Homo sapiens: one gene and its partners. The protein of the gene in region 2 interacts with the protein of the main gene of each other region in a pairwise test. Each region holds a gene or a part of one and is shown on either strand. Other genes may lie near its edges.

Region 1 (7,620 bases), on a different chromosome or scaffold from region 2:
GAGGATAATAGATCCTAGTTAACAAAGTGTTACCATCTATGCTCTTACCATCACTAACATAATATTACTATTCTAATGAATAAATATTTACTATTAAAACAGCACTTAACATTATTTTATCTATTTTAAGGATCTAAAAGTTAGTTTAGATTTTTTCTTCAATCATCATACTACAGAATGCTAAACTATGGGTTGGCAAATACTTTGATTAACAGAATGCTGAATAACAAGGCCAGGCTGTGTTTAGGTTCCTTTGTTGATATTAAAAATAGCTAAGTCACTCTTGCAAAATTAAACTTCCATGAAATTGCGATACTGTGCAAGCTTATTTCAGTGATAATTCCGGTTATGCTACTCTGTTTATCTAAGACTTCCCCTTACGGTTTGTTTTAAGGAGACTCCTAAAAAATGTCTTATGCAGTCAAGACAGGCAGTTTATAAATGTACTGGGTTACTTCAACATTAGTGACTTTAGTTAGTAAAGCTCTTGTTTTTTTTTTTCTGCTTCATTTTTCCTTCATAAAAGCCTTGTTTTAAATTAACTTATCTGAATTAAATTAATTGATATTAAGATTTTATTTAAATCATGCATTAAAACCAAAACATCCCCAATTGAAAAATCAACTTTCATTAATTTTTTTTTACTCTTACAAAAAAGAATTTGAACGTGGTAAGAATTTTACTAAGAATAATGTATCCTGAACTGACCATGGAAAATTTCCCCTTCAAATTAAAAGCAAATGTTTTAAACAGAGGGAATATACATAAACAGATGCTGTGGAAGACTGCTTAGTTTACATTTCATTTTCCACTGAAAACTACTAGGAATTAAAATACATGTGATTTTTAAAAATATTACAGAGAATCTTAAAGAAAACAGAACCCATACAATTATTCATATCATCCAATATAAGCGCCTCTTAATTTTTTAAAACCGCTATTTTGAATCCAAAGATCATAATAAAAATAGCTTTTTTTTCAGACGGAGTTTCGCTCTTGTTGCCCAGGCTGGAATGCAATGGCGCGATCTAGGCTCACTGCAACCTCCGCCTCCGGGAGTTCAAGCGATTCTCCTGCCTCAGCCTCCCGAGTAGCTGGAATTACAGGCGCTCGCCACCATGCCCGGCTAATTTTTTGTATTTTTTTAGTAGAGACAGGGTTTCACCATGTTGGCCAGGCTGGTCTCAAACTTCTGACCTCTGGTGATCCACCCACCTCGGCCCCCCAAAGTGCTGGGATTACAGGTGTGAGCCACCGCACCCGACCCATAATAAAAATACCTTGGAGGTGTGTTTCTTGTAAATGAGTGGCTAATTTCCCAACACCCTGTAAAAGTATATGGGTAAAAAGAAACTGAAAATCATCATGCAACCAGAGTTAACAACTATCTTGCAAAATTCATATCATTTGTTTTAAAACCAAAATAGCAAGGAAGAGCTGGTGTTATCCCAATAGCCTCTTTTTAATTGGTCTACAACAACTGCAACTCTTCATAACTTTACCAACACAACAAAGTCAGGCAGGCAGTCTGACAGAGTCAACGTTTGTGGGAACCTACAGCGCTTCCTTCTCTCTCTGGAGATGAGGACAATGAAAAAAGGTGTTCTGTTTTCCAGTAGTCCTGTAAGAGGAGCCATTGAGCTGGGCTGTACAACCAGACAACAGAACACAGGAAAATTCACATCAAAGCAAGGGCGCATGCCAGGGTAATATGCAATAAAACCCTCTGCCAAAGCATTAAGGGGAAAAAAAAGCAAGGAGGTAGAGAGAACCTGCTGGACTACCTTCTCATTAACACAGGGAGGCAGAAAGAAACAAAATCTGCCTGTATTCAGGAGCGGAGAAAACTGTGTCCTAGATATATTGGAGTATTCCTATAGACATGTTTATGAGCATTCGGACAAATTATCAATGAACTAAACCCAGAAAGCAGTGTCCTGTACGGTGGAGTATTCCTATGTAGACAGACATGAGAATCTTACCATTAACTAAGCCCAAAAAGGCAAAGTATTCTAGAAACACAGATATATGAGAATTTAGATGCACATTTCCAATGAATAAAACCCACTGGTTTTACAGTGAGAAAAAACTGTTTGAAATAACATCAGGTAAAGAATTGGGTAAAGGTGTGATGAAGTTATATCCCCTCCCCTTTTCCTCATACCCTTTTTGACAATCTCTGATTCTCTCATTTCATAGATGTCCCTTTCACTTGAATGCGCACACACACACACACACACACACACACACACACACACATCATTAGGTCTCCAGAAACAAAGGAGGGTCCTTAATTCTCCGGCCTGTGGAACCACACACGCCCCCTGCCCACAGATGGTGACTTTCATTAATGAGTAAGCCGAGGGAAGAGGTCTCCACCCCGACCACTGCCATGCACACTGTGACAACGGGGCACGAGACAAGCGCCACAAAGAAAGGGGAGGAGTGGACGGGGACCAGGAAAACACTGCCACGCCGCACCCCCCAAGGCGCGCGCCCACCGCCAACGCGGGGGCAGCGTCCTCGCCATCCTCCTCCTAGCCTCCCAGCTCATCCCAGCCGCCTCCCACGCCCGGGGACCCGATGCCAGGGCTTGGGCGAGCAGGACGTGCGGGGGCCCACGCACCTTCCCTCCGTGATCTCCAGGTGACAGCCCCGCTCCGCCCTTTGTGAGGGACTCACCCTCCAGTCCCGGGGCCGCGCCGGACCCTCCTCCGCGTCCCTCCTCAGCCTGGAGACACCGCCTCACCCCTGCACACCGCGCCCGGCCGGCCGAGGCGCCGGGAGAGTGTGTGTGTGTGGGAGGCTGGCGCGGGCCCGCGGTCTCCTCAGCATCCCGAACCCGGAGCGGCTCGGTCCCCCAAACCCCAGCCCGGGGGCGGCGGCCGCGGCGCTCCCGCCCTCGCTCGCTCACTTACTCGGGCGCGCCGGTGGCAGCGGCAGACGTGCGGGACCGTCAGCGCCCTGCGGCGGGCGGCAGGCTGCGGGCGGCGAGCGTCCGTCCGGACAGAGCGCGGCGGAGGTGGCGGCGGCTGACTGCGCCCGGCGGCCCCTCGCGAGGGGCGGGCCCGCCGGGGGAGGGGCGGGCGCCGCGCCTCTCATTCATGCAGCGGGGGCGGGGTGAGGGACCCGGATGCCCGGGCAGTTTCCCCACCCACCTCGGCGGAGGGCTCGGCGGCTTCAGAGTCTGCAGTGCGCAGGCGCGGCGCTCCCTGGCCAGGCCTGGTGCGGCCCTGGCCGCTGGCTCTGTTCCTGGTTAGAACTACGCCAGACAGGCCGGGCGAGGTGGCTCACGCCTGTAATCCCAGCACTTTGGGAGGCTGAGGCGGGCAGATCACGAGGTCAGGAGATCGAGACCATCTTGGCTAACGCGATGAAACCCCGTCTCTACTAAAAATACAAAAAATTAAATTAGCCGGGTGTGGTGGCGGGCGCCTGTAGTCCCAGCTACTTGGGAGGCTGAGGCAGGAGAATCGCCTGAACCTGGGAGGCGGAGCTTGCAGTGAGCCGAGATCGTGCCACTGCACACCAGCCTGGGCGACAGAGCGAGACTCTGTCTCAAAAAAAAAAAAAAAAAACAACTACTCCAGACAGACCTTCTCCATCGACCGTTTAGTATTTTTGCGTGCCCTACAAGCATTTTTAAAAGTGAAAGCATGGGGCCGGGCGCAGTGGCTCACGCCTGTAATCCCAACACTTTGGGAGGCCAAGGCGGGTGGATCACCTGAGGTCAGGAGTTCCAGACCAGCCTGACCAACATAGAGAAACTCTGTCTCTACTAAAAATACAAAATTAGCTGGGTGTGGTGGCTCATGCCTGTAATCCCAGCTACTCGGGAGGCTAAGGCAGGAAAATCTCTTGAACCCGGGGAGCGGAGGTTGCAGTGAGCCAAGATCGCACCATTGCACTCCAGCCTGGGTGACAGAGCAAGACTCCGTCTCACACACAAAAAAATGAAAGATTGGAATGCCACCCCTTTCCTAGCATGCAGATTGACAGTCCCCAGAGACACAAGAATGGTCACGTGGTGCCCATTGGTTTGATGGGGAGATGGTATGCACCGCACCCTCCTCCATCTGCCCCTCCTGCTGCAGCCTCTCAGCTGAGTGCTAGAACCTTGGTGATGGATGAGACCTAGACTCTGCCCAGATAGTGGAGAGAGGTGTGTGCAAGAAACAGTGCATTCCTTTATTTACATCCACTCCTCAACCTCCGGCTCCCATTCTACAGGGCAGGCAATAAATTGACCTCCGATTTTGGGAGGCTGAGCTCTTCCTGCAATACCAAGGCAAGGATCTGGGGAGTCCTCTCTTGTCTTTAGCAGGCAGTGTATTCTGCAGATACTCTCTTGTTCCCATCGCCTTGTGTCTGCCACTCCTGGGGTACGGAAGTTTCTGGAGAGGCTAGGAGCCTGCAGAGGGAATGGCTGTGAAGCTCCACAGCTGACTGTGTGTGCGCTGCAGCTCAGAGCTTGCAAAAATGATTGCCCCCTCTTCCTCAGTCTCCATGTGTCCCCCAGAAGTTCTCCTTCCTTCTCCTAATCTCTCAGGCCCCATCACATAAACCATAAACAGCTCAGTAGCTTAACTTTGGGAAGCAAAAGTCATCATGGCAAGCGCCTAGAGGCATGTTCCTTCTGCTTTGGCAAACCATTAACCACCAAGGCAGGGAGGAAGTAAAGAGGGAAACATTAGTGAATTTCTCAAGAAGTCACCTGCCACCCAATGGTCACAGTCCCCCAAAGTGAGAGAAGGGTGGAGGCATGTGCTAGGGAGACTGTGGCAAAAGGAAGGGAGTGGGAGACCCAGGCTTCCTCTAGAGCTGCCTGTGCCAGGGCTGTGCTGGGGGAACACTGCCCTCCTTGCTGTCAATCATAGCAGTTACCTGGAGGGTCTTTTCAACTTTGCTTTGCTCAAACCTCTCACTGTTCTAAATCAGCCCCCTCATCTCTCCCCTGGGCTGTTGCAGAAGTCTCAATCCATTCTCATGCAAATCGATTCTCATGGTATTCAAATCTGCCTGTGTTTCTGTCTTTTTCTTTTTCCCTGCCCCATCTGGCTCCTTGAGCCTTATTTTCCAGCCATTTACAGAACAGCACCATGGTGTTTCACCTCAGTAGTCACCAAGGTGACTGCTGTTTCCTGCTGTTCCCCTACTAGGAAAGCAATACTTACCTAGCATGCAAAAGTTGCTCTTTTCTCTGAAAATCCACAGATGCTTTTTAGGGCAGTGAAAATACTCTGTGTATGATACCATAATGGTGGATACCTGTCATGACACATTTGTCTAAATCCATAGAATGAATAATACCAGCAGCAAACTCTAATGTAAACATGGATTTTGGGTGATAATGATGTGCCAATGTAGGTCCAACAATAGTAATAAATGCTCCCGTGGGAGAATGTTTATAATGGGGGGGCTATGTATGTGTAGGGGGGAAGGGCTAGTTGGGAACTCTGCACATTCCTCTCACTTTTGTGGCAAACTTAAAACTGCTCTAAAAAAAAGTAAAGTATTTACAAAGTCATTTTTGATAAAGTATTTTTTTCTGCCCCCACTTATTGACAGACTTTCCTTGAGAATCCCCACCTGTGCCCTGTACCCACTTCCCTCTCAGCACTAGGCACCCTCCAAGGTCCCTGCTCATTTGCATATTTTCTTACCACACCAGCATGTGAGTCCTTCATCAGCAGGATCAGTATCTCCCAGGACCTAATATGTGACTGGCACATAGTGGGTCTGCTGTGGCTATTGGTGGAGGTGATGTTCCCTGGTGGGCTGGGGAGGCTCCACAGGAGAAGGAAAGGCTGAGCTCCTTTTCTTTCTTCTTCCTTATTTTGGCTTCCTTCCTCTGCCCTGCGTTTGGAAACCTGTTTTGTTTGTTTGTTTAGAAAGCTTGGCTAGTAATTCACTAGTCCAATCAGGCTGTAGGGTAGAGGATGGAGTGGCTCATTTCATGTCTTTTGTTCTTGAAAAAATTAGGGGTGAGTGGGAAAGAGAATGAGAGAATGAACGGAAGGAGGAGGGGCCGTGTCCAGTTGCTGTTTTCAGGGAGACTCATCTTATTAAAATTTTGCTGTGTCATCAACTGGCCCAACTGGTTTTTAGGGTCAAGGAGAAAGTTTTCCTTTGGGACTGGACAGGTGGAATCTGGCCTCACAGTTTCTACAACATATGGCAGGATCCTGCTCTTCTGTCCCCTGTAGCGGGTTGTCCCGTGTTCCCCTTAAGGAAGAAATCACAGTTTTTGTCCTCCTGGTGCTTCCGGCTGGAGGTTCACCTGCTAGTCCCTGATCCTCTTTGCTTAGTGATGCACATGAGTCTACTCATCCCCCCACCACTCCCAGCCCCCACTGGTCTAGGCAAAATGCAAGTGATGGGAGAGTGTGGGTGGGCAATTCTTTCTCTGGAGGGTTTAGGTGGGTACCTCAAAACAGCAGGCAGCTAGGACTTGAAGTGGTGGCTTCGCAGCTAACATTTTCCTTGTTCCACATGATGGGTAGGGGTAGGGTAGGGAAGACTTCACTGTTTGGAGTTTCGGAGGATGCCCCTCTTTCTCTTTATCCTTCCTCCCCACAGTCCCCTCCCATCTCCTCCCTTATACCTCTTTTTTTTTTTTTTTTTTTTTTTTGAGATGGAGTTTCGCTCTTGTTGCCTGGGCTGGAGTACAGTGGCGCCATCTCGGCTCACTGCAACCTCCATCTCCCAGGTTCAAGCAATTCTCCTGCCTCAGCCTCCTGAGTAGCTGGGATTACAGGCATGCGCCACCACGCCCAGCTAATTTTGTATTTTTAGTAGAGACGGGGTTTCTCCATGTTGGTCAGGCTTGTCTCAAACTCCTGACCTGAGGTGATCCACCTGCCTCGGCCTCCGAAATTGCTGGGATTACAGGTGTAAGCCACCACGCCCAGCCCTTATACCTCCTTTTAAGCAATGTCCTCACCCCAAATCCATCTCAGAAAATTGTCCCTACCCATATGGTCAGAAGTCCTTCAAGACTCCTGGAAAAGAAATCACAACTACTTTTAAATCAAACGTCTGACTAATTTTGGAACAGTGAGAACAGGGGCTGGTTTTAGTCATCTTTGGATCAGGTGCCCAATACAAGTTTGTTGAATGAATGCCTGACTGGTCAAGACAAAATCAGTCTTTCAAACAGAAGCTAGAAATCAAAGGTTGCCTATAGCCCCATTCCTCTGTCCATCCTCCCCATCTGTTGAGATGGCACGATTTCAGAAAAACATCCCTCCCACTGGTCAATCCTTTGAAAGCTTAATTATTCAGAGTTCTAAATGACCCCTTTAAGGGTTGATCATATAATGCTTTGACCCGTTGGACTGTGCCAGTAGAGGAGGAGATGTTCTGTGTTCCCCGAGCCTCTTCATCCAAGAATTCCAAAGTGACTCCTCCTGCCTTGATCCCTCCCAATGGCCCTCTCCTCCTCATAGCCCATGGGGACCTCTTGCTGGGGCGTGACGCTGCCCACGGAGGGGTGGAATTGCTTCTTCTTTTTTTTTTTTTAGATGAAGTCTCTCTGTCGCCCAGGCTAGAGTGCAGTGGTGCAATCTTGGCTCACTGTAACCTCCGCCTCCTGGGTTCAAGTGATTCTCCTGCCTCAGC
Region 2 (7,468 bases):
AACCTGCCACATTAACAAAACAAAACTCACGATTCCTTCTAATTTTTCTTATTCCACTGAGCTTATTTGGACCTTCCTTCCTGTTTATGGGGGAATCTAATATGGTAGTAATAACTGCGGCAGAATGCACATGGTTTTGGAAGAAATTTTAGTGTTCAAACTCAAATGATTTATCAAGGTTATGTTACTGATAGGTAATGATAAGTCATAGTGAAGCTTGCCATAATCAGTCATTTTTTTTGTATCTTCTTGTTTTGCTTTTGACTATATTCAATGTCTCTAAAAATTAGCATATGTGGCCAGGTGCGGTGGCTCACGCCTGTAATCCCAGCACTTTGGGAGGCCGAGGCAGGCAGATCACAAGGTCAGGAGTTTGAGACCAGCCTGGCCAACATGGTGAAACCCATCTCTACTAAAAATACAAAAATTAGCCGGGCGTGTGGTGAATGCCTGTAATCCTAGCTACTCAGGAGCCTGAGGCAGGAGAACTGCTTGAATCCGGGTGGTAGAGGTTGCAGTGAGCTGAGATCATGCCACTGTACTCCAGCCTGGGCAACAGAGTGAGACTCCGTCTCAGGGAAAGAAAAAAAAATTGGCATATGCTTTAAAAAGTAGACATAAAACTTTATTTGGGGGCTGGAGGGAAGAGAGAGATACATTCAATTAAGGAACAATTCCGTGAAAGTCCAATGACATAAAGGTAGTCTTTATAAATAATCCTGTTATCTAGCTCCACATTTCCCCAAATTAAAGCCTAATGGTTTCTGCAATGTTGAATACACCAAACCAGCAAAATAACCCTTGCTTCCTTCTCATCACACCCAACCACCCCAAGCTCCTCTAAGAGGCATCTGTCTGGCAGTTCACGAGAATCTAAGAGTGAGGCTTACCAGGCCTGTGATCCAAAACCGTACCAGGCTAACTGGAGCATCTGGAAGCCCAAGCCAAGGAGGACAGTATTCTTATTTCCTAATGATCTCATCAAGATGCTAAGAAAGGCCGTCTGCAAAGTAAAGGAGACAACTCTGAAAAACCACATCAACACACAGAATTAAAATACAAGCTCTGTGTGTGAAGACCCTTCCCTGATGACCAGAGACCTCTAAGGGCACACTGCCTGACCTGCAACCTCAGAGTCTGGACAGTACTGATGACCTTCTACAGGGGTGGAGTGTTGGGGGCTCCCAGCCTGACCTGGGGCTCAATGCTTTCAGCCTCCTCCCTAAGAAGCCTGTCTACCTGGTGCTCTGCTGGCACTTCCTGAAAGGATATCACAACTGTTCACCAGTTACCATGACTGAGAGGGACAGCCTCAGTCTCTGGAGAAATACTAATCACTTAAATATCTGTGAATAGCAAACTCCTGCTGAACATTTACAGAATATGAGAGCTTCTGCTGGAAGTTTACAAAGTTGGAATTGGGATGTAAGTTTGATTTTAACAAATATATACTCTGCTAAATATAACTAGTTGAGAAAGTCTAAAAAGGGGTTGGATGAAAGATGACTGGGCTGGCCGGGTGTGGTGGCTCATGCCTGTAATCCCAGCACTTTGGGAGGCCGAGGCAAGCAGATCACAAGGTCAGGAGTTCGAGACCAGCCTGGCCAGCAGGGTGAAACCCTGTCGCTACTAAAAATACAAAAATTAGCCAGGCATAGTGGTGCACACTTGTAGTCCCAGCTATTTGGGAGGCTGAGGCAGTAGAATCACTTGAACCCGAGAGGCAGAGGTTGCAGTGAGCCGAAATCATACCACTGCACTCCAGCCTGGGTGACAGAGCGAGACTCCGTGTCAAAAAAAAAAAAAAAAAAAGATGGCTGAGTTTATGTTTGATTTTGTAAAAAACCAAAATGATCAACTTGAAAGGTTAACATAATTTACATTTGCAACACATTTCAACAAAAACAAAAATATAAACGGCCTTTGTTTTGATGCATTCCCATAAGCCTTGTCAAATGTAGTAGTTTTGCGGCCTTCTCATTTCTCCTTGAGAGAGGTTACCACAGAAGAATGCTCTGCTTTCCTGGTAACCATTTCAGGGAAAACAACCCCTAGGCAGTACCATAAAATATAGTGAGTGTGCCTTGGCACAACAGTGAATTAATTTAAGGACAATATGCTTCATCTTTTCTGGTACTGTATTTACAATAGATAGGGAAATGGTTAATGCTCTCTACTCACTGAAAATCATTTATCAATACCTATATATAATAGATATTTATATATAATATCTATTATATATATATGAATATATATGAATATATGAATATATATGAATATATGAATATATATGAATATATATGAATATATATGAATATATATATGAAAATATATATATATATATATTCTCCCTCTCTCTTTTTTGAGATGGAGTCTCACTCTGTCACCTAGGCTGGAGTGCAGTGGCGCAATCTCGGCTCCCAGCAACCTCCACTTCCCAGGTTCAAGCGATTCTCCTGCCTCAGCCTCCTGAGTAGCTGGAATTACAAGCACATGCCACCACACCCAGCTGATTTTTGTATTTTTAGTAGAGACAGGGTTTCGCCATATTGGCCAAGCTGGTCTGGAACGCCTGACCTCAGGTGATCCACCTGCCTTGGCCTCCCAAAGTGCTGGGATTACAGGTGTGAGCCACCGTGTCTGGCCCTCACTGAATATGTTTTAATGCTCTGATTCATATTTCTTCAGTCCTGGGAACAGTCGGAGTTAAAGCAGTTACAGATTTTCATTTCTGCTTTTCATTTCTACTTACTTTTCAACATTAAAATAACACTGAACCATTTTCCTAGTTGATTTTGCAATCCAGAGATAGATTATAATTATTTACTATTTTGGTTGGTGTAAAAGCAAATAAAATAATTGACCCAGCAGAGGTTACGACAAATATTCTAAAAAGTAGGGAAAGTTGTATCAAAGTTCTCCTAAATCATCTTTTCTGAGAAAACACTAAATGGCAGATGATGCTGGTGCAAGGGGAGCACCAGAGGCCCCCAGGGGCCTGGGATGGGGAACCACTGTGGCTTCCGAGGAGACTTAGGCAGTGGCATCGGGGCCAGGGCCCCTGAGCTGAGGAGGCAAGGCTGAAGACAAGAGTGGATGCCAGTCACCAGGCTGGGCTGCCTGGTCAAGGATATAATTTTAAAAACATTGTTTTAAATAAAAACATAAAAAATTTCCCCTAAATTACAACCTCAAAAAAGAAAATAACCTCTACACATTATATAAGAAGGAATAGTTCTGTGGACCACATTCACATCAGTTTCTTGATCTGATATTATACTATAGCTTGCAAGACCTTACCATAGCAGGGGGTGAGGGACTGAGGTAGCAGCTCAGGGAATATCTTCCTGCATTTTTATATGTGGCTTCCTGTGAAACTATGGTTATCAGGATATTTTTTAAATTTTTTAAGTATAGATAAAATGATACTCACCTGAGCCACAATAGACAGAATTCCTACCATAGCTATGAATGCTGCAATTTTAACAGATCCAAAACCTATGACCTATGGAAATGAAATGAAAACACTTTAGTAATATAGATATTATAAAATAATAAGAAATATTATGTTCTATTACAATGATAAGTCTAGGAAAATTCATAAAACCAGTGGCAAATTAAGACATGCTGAAAGCTGAACCTATATAACCAGTAATTTATATCTAAAACTGATGTAAGAAATCGTTATAAGCAGGCACAACTTAAATTGTGAAATGTTTTATAGACATTTTCTATTATATGTCTACCTGTTGTTTTATATACCCTCTCCATCCCCAACCCACAAGTTGATAAATATGGTATCAAGTAATAAAAAATGAAACAAAATGACTGACTTTTGATGCTGCCAATACAGCATTGCTCATTAGCAAAGCCAGTGGCTCTCAACTTTGCCTGCACATTAAAATCATGATGTAAGCAAAAGACAAGGGATAAGGAGAGCAAGGGAAGGAGAGCAGTGAGATGCTGGAAGACCACTGGAGACCAGTTAAATCAGGCTCTCTGGCGGTATGACCCGGGCACAGGTATGTTTTAAAAGCTCCCATGGTGATTCTAATAAGCAGCCAAAGTAACCTGGCAATGATTTCTAAGCCTCTGACCGTAACAGTATCTCCGAAATGTCTACAACTTTTAAGACTTAAATATCAAGTTTTTTAAAAGTTACGTTATTTTGGGGCTAGGTGCAGTGGCTCACGCCTGTAATCCCAGCACTTTGGGAGGCCAAGGCAGGCGGATCATCAGGTCAGCAGTTCGAGACCAGCCTGACCAACATGGCGACACCCCGTCTCTACTAAAAATACAAAAAATTAGCTGGACGTGGTGGCGTGTGCCTGTAATCCCAGCTACTCAGGAGGCTGAGGCAGGAGACTAGCTTGAACCTGGAATGTAGAGGTTGCAGTGAGCCAAGATTGTGCCACTGTATTCCAGCCTGGGCGACAAAGTGAGACTCCATCTCAAAAAAAAAAAAAAGTTACATTATTTTGCCCTATATTAAAATTCAGGAAAAGGACCTTAAAAATTATGGGATTAAATTATATACATTATTCTCATTTCACAAATGAGTGTCTTGCTTCCAGGGACACAACTGGCTAATGAAAAGTCCTAGGGCTAGAACCTCTGGACAGCCAATCCAGTGCTGCTGACATTAACATTTTGTTTGAAGTTTTAAAAACTGGAACCGGAAAATGTAGATTTAGGGATTCTCAGCCTTTATTTGTAAATATATATTATTGTTAAAGAGCTTTATTAAGATAGAATTTAAATACCATACAATTCACCCATTTAAGTGTGTAGGTCAATGGTTTTAGTATATCCAAAGAGTTGTGCAACCATCAGCACAATCAAAAGTGATTTTCATCATTCCTCAAAGAAACGTAGCAGCCATTAGGAGTTCTACTCCCCTAACCTTCCCATCCCCCAACCGTTAGTCTACTTCCTGTCCCTATGGATTTGCCTATTCTGGGCATTTCACATAAATGAAATCATACAATGTGCAGTACTTTGTGACTGGCTTCTTTCTCTGAGCATGTCGTCAAGGTTCACCTATGTTGTAGCACGTATCTGTACTTCATTGCTTTTTACTGCTGAATAATTAACATTCTAATGTATAGGCATATTTGTTAATCCATTCATTAGCTGATAGACATTTGAGTTGATTCTACTTTCTAGACATTATGAATGATAATCTGTGTACAAGTTTCTGTGTTAGAAGTGTGTTTTCATGTCTCATGGGTATATATACCTAGGAGTATATTTGCTGAGTCATATGGTAACTATATGTTGAATATTTTGGGGAACTGCCAGGCTGTTTTCTTACAGCAGCTGTACCATTTTACATTCTCACCAGCAAGTATGAGGGCTCCGATTTCTCCACATCCTTGTCTGTCTTTTTGATAGCCATCCTAGAACATGTGAAATGGTTATCTCATTGTTGGTGTGACTTGCATGTCCTTGACGGCTAGTAATGTTATTCTTCTTTTCCTGTGCTTATTGGCCTTTTGTAGATCTTCTCTGCAAAATCCTTTGCCTATCTTTTCAACTGAGTTGTCTCTTTATTGTTGAGTTATTGTAAGATGCTATTAAGTCTTTTATTATAAGAGTTCTACATGTATTCTGGATACAAGTTATTTATCAAATATATGATCTTCAAATATCACATGCAAATTTAACTAAAATGTTAGTGTGTTAATTGTTCTTAGCAGCCAGCAATAATATAAAATAATATGGAATGATTCCGATTTGTCATAATTGGTGGTGGTGGTGACATGAGCATATGTGTAGGAGAAAAGCTAGAAGAATAAAATAGTCATAGTTGTTTATTACCTACATAAAGAGATGTAACTTTTTTTTTAGCTTTCTTCCTTGGACTGTCTCATCTTCCTACATTATTTTCTGTGTTAAATGCATATGTAATGTAATGCACAAATTAATTTAGACACAAGTATAATTTTCTACACTATCTCACCATTCTTCCCTCTAAATCTCTAGCATACAACCACCAAAAATGAACAAAAGAGAAATGCCTGGGAAAGATCGGGTGTAGTGGCTCATGCCTATAATCCCAGCATTTTGGGAGGCTGAAACAGGCAGATCACTTGAGACCAGGAGTTCAAGACCAGCCTGACCAACATGGTAAAACCCTGTCTCTACTAAAAATACAAAACTTAGCTGGGTGTGGTGGTGCATACCGATAATCCCAGCTGCTTGGCAGGCTGAGGCACAAGGATTTCTTGAACCCAGGAGACAGAGGCTGCAGCGAGCCAAGATCACGCCATTGCACTCCAGCCTGGGCAACAGAGCAAGACTCTTGTCTCCAATAAAAAAGTAAAAAGGTTTTATTTATATGCCACCACGTAAAATATTAGTCCCATACCCTCAGGAAAACTATCAGAATGAAGAATTTAATACACTTCATTTTTAAATACAACCAGAAAAAGAGGAATTTATCTTAGGAGGAAGCTTGCTGTGTCAAAGTAAACCATTAGGAAAAGGCCTGCCTTCCAATGAAATCAGTAAAAGACCACAGGATGCAATGGAAAGGCAGCTTAGGTCTGAGCAATCCCAGAGAGCTGAAGAACAGTTGAAAGGGGAAGTTTTTGGTTTTCTTTTTTTTAATTGCTTTAAGTCAATTATCTGTTTTGGGGGACAAAATAGGGTATAAATTTTTTTAAAGTGTAAAATACTCTAGAGAGGGAAGATTTTGATTAATGCTTTTGAGTCCCCCTGAAGTCCACAGCAGCAGTTGAGCTATGACCTACTGAAGGTGCCTCAGCAAGCTGGCTTCAATCAGACCTGGAACAAGGGCAGGTCTGAAATAAGTTTTATCTGTTAAATTTAATTAATATTATTAAAGATTAAAACATTACAGTACATGAATGTTACAGCAGCTTTATGCACAACTGTCAAAACTTTAAAGCAAGTAAGGTGTCGTTCAGTGGGTGAATGGATAAACTGGCAAATCCAAACAAATGCCAAAAACAAAATGAGCTATCAAGCCATGAAAGAACCTTAAATGCATATTATTAATTGAAAGAAACCAATCTGAAAAGGCTACATACTGTATGAAAAAAGGTAAAACTATGGAGACAATAAAGAGATCAGTGGTTGCCAGGGGTTGGTGGTGGAGGGAGAGATAAACAGGCATAGCATAAGGGATTTTTGCAGTGAAAATTCACTGTGTGATACTGTAAGGGTTGATACATGTTATCATGTCATCATACGTTTGTCCAAACCCATAGAATGTACAACACTAAGCATGAACCCTAATGTAAACTGTGGACTTTATGTTAAGATAATTTGTCAATGTAGGTTCATCAGTTGTAAAAATTTCCCACCCTCGTGGGAGATGTTGATAGTGGAGGAGGCTATGCATGTATGGGGATAGGGGATATATGGGAAATCTCTATATCTTACTCTCAATTTTGCTGTGAACCTAAAACTGTTCTAGAAAAATAGTCTATTTAAAAAAAAA
Region 3 (7,468 bases), on a different chromosome or scaffold from region 2:
ACTTGGGCTTTCTTATCAGCTTGTCAAGATGTGGGGCAAAAAGGAAAGGGAGACTTCCAGTTTCTGGTATGGCATGTGAGAAGTTTAGAGTTTATCACTTATTCCTAACAACAAGTAAAAAGCTAAACAAATGGAAAAACTGACAACTCTTCTTAGATCCACCAAAGAAGTGAGATCATGGGTAAACTGCTGCCCTCAAAATAGGAGAGACAGACAGATAAATACAGAGAATCACACCTTATTAGAGCAGAAACCCACGAGCAGAAGCCTCCATGGAAACCAGTACCAGAGTAGGAAACCTTGACTATAAATGATAAATTGCTGGAAGTTCAGTGTAGAAAAGTCTAAGACCTAAAAACTGTAGGGGAGCCAATCATAGAGGGTCCCCACACTCCAGGAGCTCTACCAAGTTCTCCCAGTAAAGATCTGAGAAAAATCCCCTCAGGCTTCTGGCAAGGGGGAAGAAAAGTAACCATTTTGAAATATGCCAGAACATTCCGTTATTCTCACTAAGGCCTGCCCTCAAGATAAATGGTTTTGCACAGCCCAAACTATTGGGGTTTTGTCAGAGATTAACCAGCCTGGGGAATATCCAAATGCAACTGCTCTAGCCTCCCATGTGGGAGAAAGGAAATACCCATTCCAACCCACTGTAGTATCCTGTCCCACCAAAGGAGAGGAAAAAAACTGAAAAGCACTTGTGAAGTTAACAGTTCAGAAGCACAGGCTCACTAAAAGACTAAGAACCTAATCATAGGACTGCAAAACACTTTCCCTCTCCCACATCTTAATACCAAATTACTAAAGACCTATTTACCATAATTCCTTTTTTACCCAGGTACATCATGTCCAGCTATCAAGAAAAAAAATTACAAGGCATCCTAAAAGGCAAAAGCAGTTTGAAGAGACCAAGTAAAACTAAGAGAGTAAGCACCAAAACCAGACTCAGATATGGTGGGGATACTGGACTTACCATATGAAGAGATTAAAGCAACTATGACTAATACACTAAGGGCTCTAATGGATAAAGTAGATAGCATGCAAGAATAGATGGGCAATATAAGCAGAGAGATGGAAATTCGAAGAGAGAATCAAAAAGAAATGCTAGCGATAAAACAAATTTAAAAACCCACTGTAACAGAACTGAAGAATAGTAGACTGGACACAGCTGAGGAAAGAATCCCTGAGCTTGAAGACATTATCAACAGACACTTCCCAAACCGAAAGACAAAGAGAAAAAAGATGGGAACCTCCTCCACCAAAAACAAACAAACAAACAAACACAGAATAAAATATCCAAGAACTGTGAAACAATTACAAAAGGTATAAGTGTACTAGAACACCAGAAGGAGAAGAGAAAGCTAAAGAAATCTTTGAAACAATCACTGAGAATTTATCCTAAATTAAGTCAGACAACAAACCACAGATCCAGAAAGTTCAGAAAACACCAAGCACAGTAAATGTTCCTCAAAATTACACCTGGGCATATCATTTTCAAACTGCAGAAAATCAAAGATAAAGAAAAAAACAGTGAAGTATGTGAACACAAGGGAAAGACAGCTAAATAGAACTAAACATGGCTAGGGAGAAAATGGCTAGGGAGAACTCTCTAGGGAAGCTGAGGCTGACAAATGATCTGGACTTTGAAAGGTAAGGTTAAGTAGGAGCCGAACAAAATTAATTGTGGTAGTGGGAAAGTGCATTCAAGAAGAGGGACTGATTCACAAAAGGAAAGAACATGTTGGGAAATCCGAGGAGATTGTAAAGTGAAAGCAAAAGAGTGGCGCATGGAAGCCAGATCAAGAATTGACATTAAAGTGACAGGAAACTATAGAAGAATTTCAAACAGAAAAGTGGCAAAATCATATTCATATTTCAAAAATGTAACTAGGTTACAGGTAGAGCACATCAAGATTAGAAACAGGGACGATAAGATAGTAGCAGTGGGAAAAAAGAAGTGAAAGAATCCATATATATTTAATGAGTATAATTAATAGGACAAGAAGTGGAAAGAGAAAAAAGAGCAGAACCATATCATTCCTTGGTTTCTAGTTTTTTTTTTTTTTTTGAGACAGGGTCTCGCTCTGTCGCCCAGGCTGGAATGAGGTGGCATGATCACACCTCACTGTAGCCTCGACCTCCTGGGCTCATGCCATCCTCCCACCTCAGCCTCCTGAGTAGCTGAGCCTACAGGCATGAATCACCATGCCCAGATAACTTTTTGCACACACACGGTCTTGCCATGTTTGTTGCCCAGGCTGTTCTCAAACTCCTATACTCAAGCGATCTGCCCACCTTGGCCTCCCAAAGTGCTGGTTACAGGCGTGAGCCACTGTGCCTGGCCTGGTTTTCACATTTAACAATTGACAGAGAACGTAACAGCAGGAGCAAGTAAGGAAGTAAAAGTGGGTAGACAAGACCCATGTAAAAATGCTTGCAAATTTAAAAATGAAACAATCTGGCTGCTCTAACGCTATTAATGCCTATTTCTAGTTTTGTATTTTAAAAAGTTTTCATTAAAATGTTGTTTGAGGATCAGGAAAAACAACTAAGATACTAGGCTTAATACTTGGGTGATGAAAGAATCTGTATAGCAAATCTCCATGACACGCGTTTACCTAAGTAACAAACTTACACATCCTGTACATGTACCCCTGAAGTTAAAAGTTAAAAAAAAAAGTTCAAATTGTGTGTTTTCCCATGTGTGTACACATATACACAGAGAAGAGGGAGAGTGCATGCAGTAGCAAGAAGATAAAGCAAGTTGTCTGACTTAATTTCGGATAAATTCTCAGCATGAATTGTTAACAATGGCTAAGTCTCTGTATGTGAAGGATAGAGACTGCCCTTTGTATTATTTTTATTTTGCAATCTTTTGTAAGCTTATTCCCAAAAAAACATTTAAAAACTGTTATGTTCAGGCCGGGCGTGGTAGCTTACGCCTGTAATCCCAGCACTCTGAGAGGCCGAGATGGGCGGATCACCTGAGGTCGGGAGTTCGAGACCAGCCTGACCAACATGGAGAAACCCCTTCTCTGCTAAAAATACAAAAAATTAGCTGGGAATGGTGGCGCATGCCTGTAATCCCAGCTACTAGGGAGGCTGAGGCAGGAGAGAATCCCTTGAACCTGGGAGGCGGAGGTTGTGGTGAGCTGAGATCGCGCCATTGTACTCCAGCCTGGGCAACAAGAGCAAAACTCCATCTCAAAAAAAAAAACAAAAACAAACTTATGTTCAGAATACATATGTGTGTTGTACATAAAAGAATGTACACAAGTTAGTGATTGAGTGTATATAGCAGTTAACTTACCTTTCTGAAACGAATGCTCATTTTAAAATTATTTTTTAAATCTGACAAGTAAAAATTGTACACATATGGTGTATAACATGTTTTGCAGTATGTATATATTGGGGAATGGCTAAATTAAGCTAATTAACCTACACGTTACTTCACATACTATTTTTTGTGGTGAGAACACTTAAAATCTACTTTTTTTTTTTTTTTTTGAGACAAGAGTTTCACTCTTGTTGCCCAGGTTGGAGTGCAATGGCGTGAACTCAGCTCACTGCAACCTCTGCCTCCTGGGTTCAAGTGATTCTCCTGCCTCAGCCTCCCAAGTAGCTGGGATTACAGGCACCTGCCACCACACCCAGCTAATTTTTGTATTTTTAGTAGAGACGGGGTTTCACCATGTTAGCCAGGCTGGTCTCAAATCACCTCTGATGATCCACCTGCCTTGGCCTCCCAAAGTGCTGGGATTACAGGTGTGAGCCACCGCTTGGCCAAAATCTACTTTTTAAAAGCAATTTTGAAGTATACAATACACTGTTAGTAACCATAGTTACCATGTTTTAAATAGATCTCTTGAACTTATTCCTCCTGTCTAAATGAAATTTTGTATCCTTTGACCAACATCTTTTCCAACCCCATATCCAGTCTCTGGTAATCACCATTGTACCTTCTATTTTTAATGCTCATTAAAAAGAAAATATACATATATATACTAGAGGCAGAGAGCTTTAAAATAAAATCCAAGTTCTTACCATAAAAAATCTAGTCCATTCCTATAGTCCTCACCAATCTCATCTCAAGCTACTCTTTCCCTCACTCACCACGTTATTATCCTGCTTTTAAGGAAATGTTTTGCCTTAGAGCCTTCCCCCTTGATGTTCCCTCTATTTAGGACACCCTTCCTTGCAAGTCTTGCTCCTTCCTATTCTTTGGTATCAGCTCAAATGTCACTTCCTCAGAAAGGCCTTCTTTGACTACCCTGTCCATATGAGATCCCATTGTTCCACCGAATTGTTACTTTCTATCACAACAACCTGTATTATCACATACATATTAGACATTAAAATTCAAAGAAAGCAAGGGCCTTGCTGTTTTGCCCATTGAGTATATCAAGGGTGAAGCACAACACTGTCCATAAATACATTTTGCATCAATGTTGATGAGATGTAATGGGAAGCCAACCAAAGAATTCAGTAGTTCTGATGTATAAGTCCTTACACATTTTCTAAACTGTATTTGAGAAGACTGAAAAATATAAACAAAAATGTCTTACCTCCTGCAATTACAAAATGGCTTAAGGCATCTTTATTTCGGTATACATTCAGACTAGTGTTCACTGTGCTGGTAAAAAGGGAGGAGAAGGAAAATATAAGATTTAAAGCATATCCCATTTACCTTCTTGAGTGTTATTTTCACTGACTTAATAGATTTAGAAAAGCCTACTATATCAATCCCTGTTCCTAGCCTAGGCCCCTTCAATGTGTTCCAGACATGGTTGTAAAACCATAACTACACCAGTCTTTTACACAGAGAAAAGTTCTTGAAAAAAAAAAAAAGGCATTATTAATCACTTTCATGTGGGTATTCAGTTTTCATAACCCCACCTGCTCAAAAGACACACTCCTAAAACAATATCAAGAAAATTCACTATCTCACAATTCAGAGTGAACTTACTTGAATATAGTCACAAACACTGCAGTTCTCCAACCCCAGCGCCAGCCATAACGAATGAAGCCTCGTGTGGCAGCACGATGTGCAGATTGCTAAAGTTAATTAAAAAACTGTGAGGTTCTAAGACACCATCATATTTTCCTTATTCTAGAACTGCGGTAGAGGAATTTTAGCTATGGATTAGTCAGGTACACCCAAACAGATAGAAATACTAGAAAATCTCTAGAAATACTATTCTTTAAGTATTGAGGCTTACGTAAAAGTTCCATGTGTAGCCTATCCTATCAGGAGATGAAAAAATGGTTGAGTATCCCTTATCTGATACTTGAGACCAGATCCCTTATCTGATACTTGGATTTAGGATTTTTTCAGATTTGGGAATATGCGCTTTTAACACTTACTGGTTGAGCATCCCAAATCCAAAAAACCGAAATCTGAAATGCTCCAATGAGCAATTCCTTTGAATGACGTGTCAATGCTCAAAAAGTTTTGAATCTGAGCATTCAGGATTTCAGATTTGTGCTGCTCAACCTGTAATGAATTATAAATCTACAGAATAAAATAAGAATCCATGAGTCCCTACTGATAGAAATAAATTATAAATAGATAAATAAATATGTAAATAGAGGGGGGAAGGGAAAACACTTCCTTAGAGCATAATACTAACCAATAAATGTAGAAAGAATGATAGACTTTAGAAAATGCCCATTTGGCCACCACAGTCATAATTGTTACAGGAAGAATCATCATTAAATGCTAAAACTGCCTGGGTATGGTGGCTCACACCTGTAATCTCAGCACTTTGGGAGGCAACTAGGGAGGATCACTTGAGCCGACAAGTTTAAGACCAGCCTGGGCAACATAGCGAGATCCTGCCTTTACAAAAAAAATTTAAGAATTAGCTAGGCATGGTGGTGTGTGTTTGCAGTCCTAGCTACTCGGAAGGCTGAGGCGGGAGGAAACCTTGAGTCCAGAAGTTTGAGGTTGTGGTGAGCTATGATCGCGCCGCTGCACTCCAGCCTGCACTGAGGCAGGAAGACCCTGCCTCAAAAAATTTCAAAAAAAAAATTAATTAATTAAAAAATAAAAATAGGCTGGGCACAGTGGCTCACACCTATAATCCCAACCCTTTGGGAGGCCAAGGAGGGGGTGAACTGCTTGAGCTGAGGACTCTGAGACCAGCCTGGGCAACATGGCAAAACCCTGTCTCTACAAAAAATACAAAAATTAGCTGGGAATGGTGGCACATGCCTATAGTCCCAGCTACTTGGGAGGCTGAGACAGGAGAATCGAGTGAGCCTGGGAAATGGAGGTTGCAGCAAGCCAAGATTGTGCCACTGTACTCCAGCCTGGGCAACAGAGTGAGACCCTGTCTCAAAAAATAAATAAAGGAATAAATAATTTTTAAAAAAATAAAAAAATTATAAATGCTAAGAATTTAGAATAGTTTTTAGATAGTAGAAATATTATAGTTTATAATAGCATTTAAGTAGTAGAAATTTGATGAAAAGCAGGATATTTACATAGTCTCAAAGGAACTAACAAGTACTCAAAATACTTATAAATTACCAAGGAAAAACATAGTAATTTTACAGTGTATAGTTGGCAGAGGCCATCTTAAGCAAGTCACTGAAGTAAACATCACCAGTAAAGGGACAGAGATATCATGGGTTTCTAATTTAATTTCAGTTCTAGGGTATTCCTGTCAAAAAACATAGTCTGAATGCAGTCATGAGAAACCATCAAACAAACCCAAATTGAGGGACATTCTACAAAATAAATCACCCATAGTCAAGGCCATGAAAGACAAAAACAGAGAAACTCTTCCAGACTAAATGAGACCAAAGCAGCATAACAGGCAAATTCAACATGTGATCCAGGGTCAGATTCTGGACCAGACAAAAAAAAATTTAATTAATTAATTTTTTAATAAGAACTCAAGCCTAACTTCTGAAAAATACATTTTTTTATTTATTTTTAAAATAAATGATACTGTGGGATAACTAGCAAAATTTACAGGTCTTTAAATAAGATAATAGTACTATATCTGTGTTAATTTCCTGATCTTGATATTATAATTGTGGTTGTATAAGAGAATTTCCTTGTTTTTAGGAAATAACACACTGAAGTATTCATCATGTCTATAACCTACTGTCAAGTAGCTCAGAACAAATTAGTACATATTATACAGAGGGAGAATGATAAAACAAACATGGTAAAATGTTAACAATGGAGAATCCGGATGAAAGGTATATAGGAAATCTTTGTACTAGTTTTGCAACTTTCAAGCCTGCTATAATTTCAAAATAAAAAGTTAAAAATTCTCTGAGCTTTAATATTCTCACAAAAGAACTGATGTACAGATCTAATGATGTAACAAACGAGTTAGCACTCTATAAAGTTATAAATGTTAACTATTGCTTTAGTGTGAGCTCCTATACTCATGGAGGCTTTGTGAATGAGGTAAATATGTTACAGCTGAGCCTTGACGATTTAGCAGGGGAT

Evidence for each region.
Region 1: the proteins of SLC71A2 (region 2) and RNF24 interact in binary tests that used the Homo sapiens proteins (3 or more experiments, as listed by UniProt).
Region 3: the proteins of SLC71A2 (region 2) and TIMMDC1 interact in binary tests that used the Homo sapiens proteins (3 or more experiments, as listed by UniProt).

The regions. Positions count from the first base shown.
Region 1 is NC_000020.11:4,012,519-4,020,138, forward strand, and holds the start of RNF24 (RING finger protein 24), read right to left. Parts: upstream 3,041-7,620; 5' UTR 2,919-3,040; exon of another isoform or gene 2,627-2,918; intron 1-2,626. UniProt on the Homo sapiens protein: May play a role in TRPCs intracellular trafficking.
Region 2 is NC_000009.12:94,447,493-94,454,960, reverse strand, and holds part of SLC71A2 (hippocampus abundant transcript-like protein 1), read right to left. Parts: intron 3,506-7,468; coding exon 3,434-3,505; intron 1,004-3,433; coding exon 891-1,003; intron 1-890.
Region 3 is NC_000003.12:119,501,119-119,508,586, reverse strand, and holds part of TIMMDC1 (complex I assembly factor TIMMDC1, mitochondrial isoform 1 precursor), read right to left. Parts: intron 5,056-7,468; coding exon 4,967-5,055; intron 4,634-4,966; coding exon 4,566-4,633; intron 1-4,565.